Linked DNA regions of Homo sapiens: region 2 is linked to region 1. The links come from fine-mapping of genetic effects on gene expression. A gene starts in region 1. The other region holds a variant in brackets. All regions are shown on one strand. Distances are from middle to middle.

What was found. PIP is the estimated chance that this variant, and not a neighbour inherited with it, causes the effect.
Region 2: its variant is the best candidate, but not a certain one, in a credible set for the expression of MRC1 in whole blood (INTERVAL, PIP 0.88).

What each region holds. Positions count from the first base shown.
Region 1 is chr10:17,806,703-17,811,098 of GRCh38, reverse strand. MRC1 (mannose receptor C-type 1) reads right to left here and starts at 1,751. Exons shown (of 30, transcript NM_002438.4): 1 at 1,573-1,751. The coding sequence starts at 1,633.
Region 2 is chr10:17,786,708-17,791,103 of GRCh38, reverse strand. All of the region lies in intron 3 of TMEM236 (transmembrane protein 236), which reads right to left. Among named protein-coding and RNA genes, the nearest start is that of MRC1, 20 kb to the left of the region's middle. RefSeq lists an enhancer at 3,127-3,744. The variant C/T (reference allele first, on the strand shown) is at 2,135.

The sequences.
Region 1 (4,396 bases):
TATCAGGGCTGGGCGCTGTGGCTCATGCCTATAATCCCAGCACTTTGGGAGGCTGAGGAGGGCAGATCACTTGAGGTCAGGAGTTCGAGGCCAGCCTGGCCAACATGGTGAAACGTTGTCTCTACTAAAACTACAAAAATCAGCTGGGCATGGTGGTGCATGCCTGTAATCCCAGCTACTTGGGAGGCCGAGGCAGGAGAATCACTCGAACCCAGGAAGTAGAGGTTGCAGTGAGCCAAGATCATGCCACTGCACTGCAGCCTGGGCAACAAAATGAGAATCTGTCTCAAAAATAAAAATAAAATTAATTTCATCTATCCTTTTTATTTGGCCTTTTATGTACTTCTTTTCTGCCACTGATTTTAATAGCTAACACTTATAAGGCACTTACTATGGGTCATACTCTGTTCTAAACATTTCACATATTGTTACTCATTGAATCATCACAAGAACTGATGGGGGCAGGTAATATTATTCTTTCCATTTTATAGACATGGAAACTAAAGCACAAAGAAATAAAGTAGCCTGCCCAAGGTCGCAAAGCTAGTGAGTGAGAGAGACAGGATGTAAACCATACCGCCTTCACTTGTGTTTTTGTAATCACTACCACTCAATACTTATGATTTAACATTTGCGGTACTAAAACACTCTCTTCCTAGGAAACTTCCCACCCGCCTTCACATCAGTGCATAGAGTAGATCGTAGGCACAAACCATTCTCTGCAAGTGTTTGTTGATTTCATAGAATTAAAGGGGGATCAGAAATCAAAAAATCAAATTTGAAATCTCTTCTAAATCATCTCCAAATAGAACCAGGAATGAAAATCCCCCGAGGCACTCCCATCCTGAAGTTTAAGCAACTGAGTATAGAGAAATAGAAAAGACAGACTGGAAAAGGTATTTGAGAATTTGAACAACTCTGGAGCTGTTCCTAATGAGTAATCTCTAATCTCCAGAAAAAGAAGAAAAACAGGAATCGATCTGCTTATGCGGCAGTTTGAATAGTCTAGAATACAGATAAGGATGAACTTTCTAACAATCAAGTGTCTGAATGATTCTGGCAGAAAAAAAAATGAGTATGGAAATTGCTTAGAATCTCTTTTGGGGGGATGATCTGCGATGATACCCTCGGACCTAAGACGCGGGGAGACATCAGGGCTGCCCTCCTTCCAGCCAGAGACACTCAGAAGGTGTTTGTTGGCGGTGAGACAGAAATAGTGTGAATTGAAAACCAGAAAGAGTAAACCACAGAGCAGGAAATTTCTGCACGAAGAAAACAGGGAAGGAACAACGAGCGATGAGAGAAGTCAGGAGGACACTGAAGGTCTGTAGGGTTCCCGGCAGGGCAGCAACCGAGACCTGAGACGCATCCTCCTCCCTCCTCCAACTCCAGGCCTCCCATGCCTGGCCGCCAGGTGAAGGCAGCAGGCTTAGCCGTGGACTGCGTGGTGCAGGGGAACCCCGTTTCCTCCTCACAAAGATGTTGAAAGGAACCCATTCACAGTAACCCAGAAGAGGAAGGTGTGGTTCCGGCCCCCCAGGTCAGAGATCCCCTGCCTCAGAGCAGACTTACCCAGTAGGAGAACAGCACCCGGAATGACAGAGGCAAAAACCAGGAGCAGGGGTAGCCTCATGGCCCAGGGTTTATCCTTTCCTTCTCCTGATGGACAGGAGGGCGGAACTAAGACGCAAAACAACGAGGCCCCCCAACTGCCTCTCCACCTAATCCAAGTTCCCAGAGCTGCCCAGCTGAAAAGAACTACAGAGGAAGCCCTCCCTTTTAAAGGGCTCCTGAATTTAGGGAAAGCCTCTACTGAGGAGACATCCTGTCACATGAGGGTGGCTGGAAAAACAGGAATTCAAAGTAACAACTTTGCTTCGTAAGCTAACTTCTGAGAAGAGCAGACGCAGAGGAAGGGGAGAAAGGGACACGTGTGGGAGAGGAGTGGCGGGGTGGGGAGGAGAGAGGGCGATGGTGATGGTGAGGAGTCAGGAAGGAGAGAAGTGAAACAGCCTGGGAGCTCCCGGCCTGCTCAGATGGGGCTGGGTGGAGATCAAGCTGCAGGCCATTACCTGTGCCGGAAGACGGAGCTTCCCCTGGGAAGCAGCTGAGTCAGGGGTCCCTCAGCAGACAACCTCCACTCTGAAGTGACAGCCACACGGGCCCTGGAAAGGACAGTTTTACGCTGGAAACACTTCAGAGTTGAAGCTCATCCCCTTCAGTTTCCACATTCAGTGCTTAGAGCCTTTCTTTTTTTTCTTGGAAAGTTTCAACAGAAAGTTCCGTGGAGCTTCATTTCCTCCAGGCAGAAGAAAAGTGAAAAGGAGGCTACACCTAAGAGGGAATGTCAGTCAGGCCAGGAAGGAGAAAGTTCTAGAAACCTTTTGCTAGAACGTTCTCTAGAAAGCCAGAAAAAACAGTGGTAAAGGATTTGCAGTAAAGCCTTGCTGCCCAGCCTCAACCATCCCGGTCCTCTTCAAGTTTAAGTGGGTCCCCTTGCTAGAAAAAGAAAATCTGGCCAGGCACAATGGCTCACGCCTGCAATCCCAGCAGTTTGGGAGGCCGAGGCAGTCAGATCACCCGAGGTCAGGAGTTTGAAACCAGCCTGGTCAACATGGCAAAAACCCGTCTCTACTAAAAATACAAAAGTTAGCCGGGTGTGATCATGCACACCTGTAAGCCCAGCTACTCAGGAGGCTGAGGCAACAGAATCGTTTGAACCTGGGAAGTGGAAGTTACAGTGAGTCAGGATCGCACCACTACACTCCAGCCTGGGCGACAGACGCGAAACTCCATCTCAAAAAAAAAAAAGAAAAGAAAAAAAAGAAAAAGAAAATCTGATTGTTTGGTCAAAAGGTATATCTTTATTTAAAGGCAAGTGGAATTCTTTCTTAGAATAAAATATGTTTCTAGATCTTTCATTAAGCAGAAAATAACCCTCCAAACATTTATGTTGTCATTTTTCAAAAGTAGAACAGGAATTTAGAACATTTTAAAGCAGAAACTAACGATTAGCTGGCCAAACCGTTACTAGAGTGTGGAATATGTTAGTAATTCAAAAAGAAGCTACTGGAAACATTGTAATTTTTAAAATTTTTTAAATGAATAGTTTTATCTTCAAACGGAAAGCCTCCACATTCGTTGTCTTTGTGATAAAGTTGAAAAGTTTCCATCCTATTAGAAATGTGATGTAGTTCTCTTACTGATTGTTTTTAACATGTAAATTTGAGATTATCCTGACCGGAGGGAAAAAGATAGTGAAAATGTAGGACAGAGGACCAAAGTTTCTTTGTCACTAAGGCTGTACATGACTGAAAAAAAAAATGATGGTTATAGAACAGAACAGACAAAACAAAAATGTTTCTCAGACATTGTTTCACTGGCTTATGAAAATAATAGTTTAAATGGGTCATTTGTGGCTTTCAAATATAAATAAATCATATACAAAAGTGACTGCCTAATTTACATTTATATATATTTCAGAAGCAAATACATTTAATTGAATTATGTATATAATCACATTCAGGGTTGGTTTGTTTCTTTGAGACAGAGTCTTGCTCTGTCGCCCAGGCTGGAGTGCAGTGGTGCAATCTGGGCTCACTGCAACCTCCACCTCCCGGGTTCAAGCGATTCTCCTACCTCAGCCTCCCAAGTGGCTGGGATTACAGGCGCGTGCCATGATGCCCAGCTATTTTTTGCATTTTTAGTATAGACGGGGTTTCACCATGTTGGCCAGGCTGGTCTCAAACCCCTGACCTCAAGTGATCCGCCCGCCTTGGCCTCTGAAAGTGCTGGGATTACAGACGTGTGCCACCATACCTGGCCCAGGGTTTGTTTTTTAATTACATAAGTGTGTATATCACATTAGTAAAATTAAAAATTAGGATCAGTACTAAAATCTGTGAAGTTTAAACAAAATGCAGCCAACCACCCCACAAAGAATTTACCCCATGACCTTGACCTCGTTGAAACAAAGATTTATCAGGCTACAAGAGGCCACTGGGGCAAAAAATAAATCCAAATCTTGGGGAAGGGATGTCACAGAAGATGGTGGTGTGGGAAACTCCAGGAATTCATCCCTCCATCTAAGCAGCCATCAAATGGACAGGAACTGACTGAAGTAACTGCAGGTGCTCCTCTACTCATGATCAAATTAGGCCCTGTTAAACCCAATGTGAGTTGAAATATGCTAAGTCAAAAATGCACTTAATACACCTGACCTACCAAACATCACGGCTCAGCGTAGCCTACCTTAAACGTGTTGAGAACACTTACATTAGCTTCCAACTGGGCAAAATTGATAGGGACAGGAGGCAGAGAAGTGCTAGGTAGAGAAGGGCAGGATCCCTGGCGAGGGCTCCACCCTCGGACCTGTGCCCACGGACCTAAGTGGGAA
Region 2 (4,396 bases), 20 kb after region 1:
GGTCACACAGCTAGCAAGTAGAAAGACCAGAACTTGAGTCCCAAACCCTTAACTGTTGTACCACACTGTCTGTGGCAGAGACAGATTATAGAGAGTCTTATGGTCCAGGATAAAAGTTTTGGATTTTATTCTAAGTTTATTAGGTTGTTGCAAAAGTAGCAACTTAGAGGCGAATGTGAGGCAGTAGAATGAAGACACAGAAGTCAGCAGAGGCAGCTGATGTGCAAAGAGATTGTTACCCAATTCACAGCAGCCAAAACATAATTACTCAGAAACAAATATGGCTAGTCTTAGGGTAATCCCCCAAATCTATTTCTCCCAAGGGGAAAATGGTTAGAGGAATCTAAAAATGAATGATTTAGGCATAACACTGAGAAAAATATATGGAGCAGAAGAAAATTACCAGTCCTTTTAAAATGATTTTTGAAAAAACATTCGGCACACAAAGCAGTGGTAGTCATAATAATTTCAGAGGACAAAGGGAAAAAGGCAATAAATTAAAATACACTTCAAGGTAAATTAGAAACACTGTTATTTATTTCTTTATTCATTTATTTATTTACTTTAGAGACATGGTCTCACTCTGTTGCCACAATCATAGCTCACTGCAGCCTCAAGCTTCTGGGCTCAAGCGATCCTCCTGCCCCAGCCTCCCAACTATCTGGGACTACAGGCTCACTCATTCATCCATTCGTTTATTCCCTGTCTCAAACACTTACAATGTCTAAGATACTGTACTAGGAATTGTGGAAGACGCAACAATCAATAGGTATGATTCTCACCCTTCTAGCAGCTTCCATTCAAATACAGCACTCTGAACTAAACCTTAGAAAGCAGAACTTCAGCTTCATCATTTATTTATTTATTTATTATTTTTGAGACTGCGTCTTTCTCTACCCAGAGTGGAGTGCAGTGGTACAATCCTGGCTCATTGCAGCTTTGATGTCCTGGGCAAACGCGATCCTCCCACCTCAGAATCCCAAGTAGCTGGGACTACAGGCATGCGCTATGACGCCTGGCTCATTTTTTTGTTTTGTTTTGTTCGTTTTTTGTTTTTTTGTTTTATTCTTTTCTTTTTTTGAGACGGAGTCCCGCTCTGTCGCCCAGGCTGGAGTGCCATGGCGCGATCTTGAATCACTGCAAGCTCCGCCTCCCGGGTTCATGCCTTTCTTCTGCCTCAGCCTCCCGAGTAGCTGGGACTACAGGCGCCCGCCCCCACGCCCGGCTAATTTTTTTTTGTATTTTTAGTAGAGATGGGGTTTCACCATGTTAGCCAGGATGGTCTCAATCTCCTGACCTCGGGATCCTCCTCCTAGGCCTCCCAGAGTGCTGCGATTACAGGCGTGAGCCACCGTGCCCGGCCCTGGCTCATTTTTTAATTTTTTGTAGAGATGGAGATCTCACTATGTTGCCCAGGCTGGTCTTGAACACCTGGCCTCAAGCGATCCTTCTGCCTCAGCCTCCCAACGCACTGGAATTACAAGCATGAGCCTCCACACCCAGCTAAACACTGTTATTTTGACATACTCTCACTGAGGTAGGGAAGACAAGTAATATTGCCAAGCAATAAATGATGAAATGGGACATCAACCTCACAGTGAAGGAATTCGTCAGCATCTGTAAAGCACTTAAAAATAGTGTTTGGCATATAGAATGGTCATGTATGTGTTAAATAAATAAAAAGTAGCAATAGTGAAATAATTAATTGTTTTAAATTAATTGGGACAGAATAGAATATATTAGGTTGCAGTAAATAGTAAGAGTGACTATAATTTGTTTAACTTTGGCTATAGTTACACTATAACTCATTATCTGGTATATCAGGGGAGGTCACAAGTTAGAGAAAGACTGTCACACTACAGAGACTAAACAAGATCATGAGTTTCTTATATTTGCCTGTTCACATCACAAAGAAAAATGCTACCCTACAGATATAACCTACACAGGTGAAGGCAGCTTACACCAGCTAACAAGAGTCTCTTGTGTGTATCTCTTCCTAATTCCATTATCAGTGTTCAGTGATACCACCTTGGTAGCTTGAAATCGGTCATAGTGGGAGAATTTACACCACAGACACTGGCAAATGTTACAAATCAGGACTTCCCCACTCCTCAACCCCACTCCACAAAGGCAA[C/T]TGATTAAACACTGACCAGTATACTACTACTGCCTGTGCTCAAAACTGTGTACAAGTTTTCAACAAATAATAATGAATTCAAGACAAATATTCAACCCGTCATCAGCTCTGGAAAAGCCTGTGGGCATGCATTCCCAGCTGTGAAATAGTTGCGGCAACTTTCTTTACAGAAAGCATGAGATTGTTGTCCAGTAAATTCAAAAACCCTAAGATCCCATTTCAGTTCCATGCCACTCATTGTGTAAATCTGACAATAAATAAATGTATCATTTCTGTATCTTATACAATATAAAATGTTAAGAGAATTATTTTGTCAGAGGACACAACTAGAAAGCTAGGTGGTTTAAAATTTTTTAACTTTTTTTTTTTCTTTTTTTTTTTTGTAGAGATGGGGTCTTGCTATGTTACTCAGGCTGGTCTTGAACTCCTGGGCTGAAGCAACCCTCCCACCTCAACCTCCCAAAGTGCTGGGATTACAGGTGTGAGCCACCATGCCCAGCCCACTGGATGGTTTAGAGATCATTTTTCCCTCTACTGCTGCTTTACAGACTTATCTAACACTCGACAAGTGTTGCTAAAATCTTAATATTATCAATTTTTAAATATTCCATTTTTAAATATTGAAAAAATGTTCCAATCTAAAATTCCTAATCTTCAGCTTTTCATTCATATTGTGGTCCTTCTCCCCAAGAGATATATGGTTAGACTAGAAAATGTTATTTAATTTACAATATATTTTATACAAAAGTAATTATATTATTTATGTTACTTATAATGATATATATTTCTAGATATATTTTACTCAAAATATCTAATATATAAATAAATTCATGCTGAATTCTTCATGTTCTGTTATTCTTATCAATGTTCCTGAAACATTTATTTATTTTATAATATATATAAAAATAATATACCATTGAATATGTTTAAAAATATATACATAGTAAGGTAGAATGTCAAGGTGCATATAGTTATCTCATTGCCAAAGAGAAATAATCCTATACTTTGAAATGGTCTGAAATGCCTCTACCCGTATTTCCTCCTTTATTCCAAATACTCAGGAGTTTTAAGTGCTTGGATACAGACATGAGCTAGCAATCCCAGCAGGAGTGGATGACAGAAACTGATGCATAATGGATTAAACCTGAGTCATTGCATTCTTAAGAACCTCCGTCAGCCTGGTTTATGCATATTTACTAGTGTAGTTTAAGAGCCCTGGAGCGTCTAGACCAGGAGCTCCGCAAAAGGCAGCCTCGCCTGTTTCTGCTCAGCTTTGTACCCCCAGCACCAGTGGAGTGCCTGGTATTGATATGGAACAGATCCACCATAAAGATTTGCTGAATAAAAGGTGGGAGGAATTTCTTTTCTGGAATCTATTAGCATGAGGGAGCAATGAGCATTCTGGGGAAAAAACCTGCACTAAGGCAAGGAAGCCAAAGCATGAAAGCTCGGCCCAGCCATTGACTCTGGTTCCCGTAGAGTCAATGGGTAAAAAATGTGGAGCTCTGCACAGAGTCTACCACTCAGATGCCCCTATGGCCCAGTCCTGGAGGGAGCCCCTTAAGCAAGGCCATGACGATTGATTCCACTAACATACCCTGGAAGACATGGGGAGCACCTGGCAGCACAGGCTGGGGACCGGCAACACTAAGGGGACTTAGCTCAACACTAAGAGAGGATGTAATGCGACATCAGGCCCCACAGAGGGTGCCAGCGCTGTCTGGCATGGCACAGTCCACAGTGCTTGGGCAGACAGTTGGCACCAACAGCAGCAGCAGTGCTTCAAAGCATGCCAGAGACCATCCAGGCACCAGTAGCGTCAGGGGTCACCAGGCAGGGGGAAGAAAGGGCATGTATTAGTCCGTTTTCATGCTGCTGATAAAGACCTACCCAAGACTGGGAAGAAAAGGAGGTTTAATTGGACTTACAGTTCCACATGGCTGGGGAGGTCTCACAATCATGGCAGAGGGTGAAAGGCATTTCTTCCATGGCGGCAGCAAGAGAGAATGAAGAAGATGCAAAAGCGGAAACCCCTGATAAACCCATCAGATCTCATAAGGCTTATTCACTATCACGAGAATAGCATGGGAAAGACAGGTATTTATTTACTGTCAGGTTTACCTATGATTCAATTACCTCCCCCTGGGACCCTCCCACAACATGTGAGAATTCTGGGAGATACAATTCAAGTTGAGATTTGGGTGGCGACACAGCCAAACCATATCAGGGCAGATGTGTAATTTCAAGAAGATCATGTTTGTG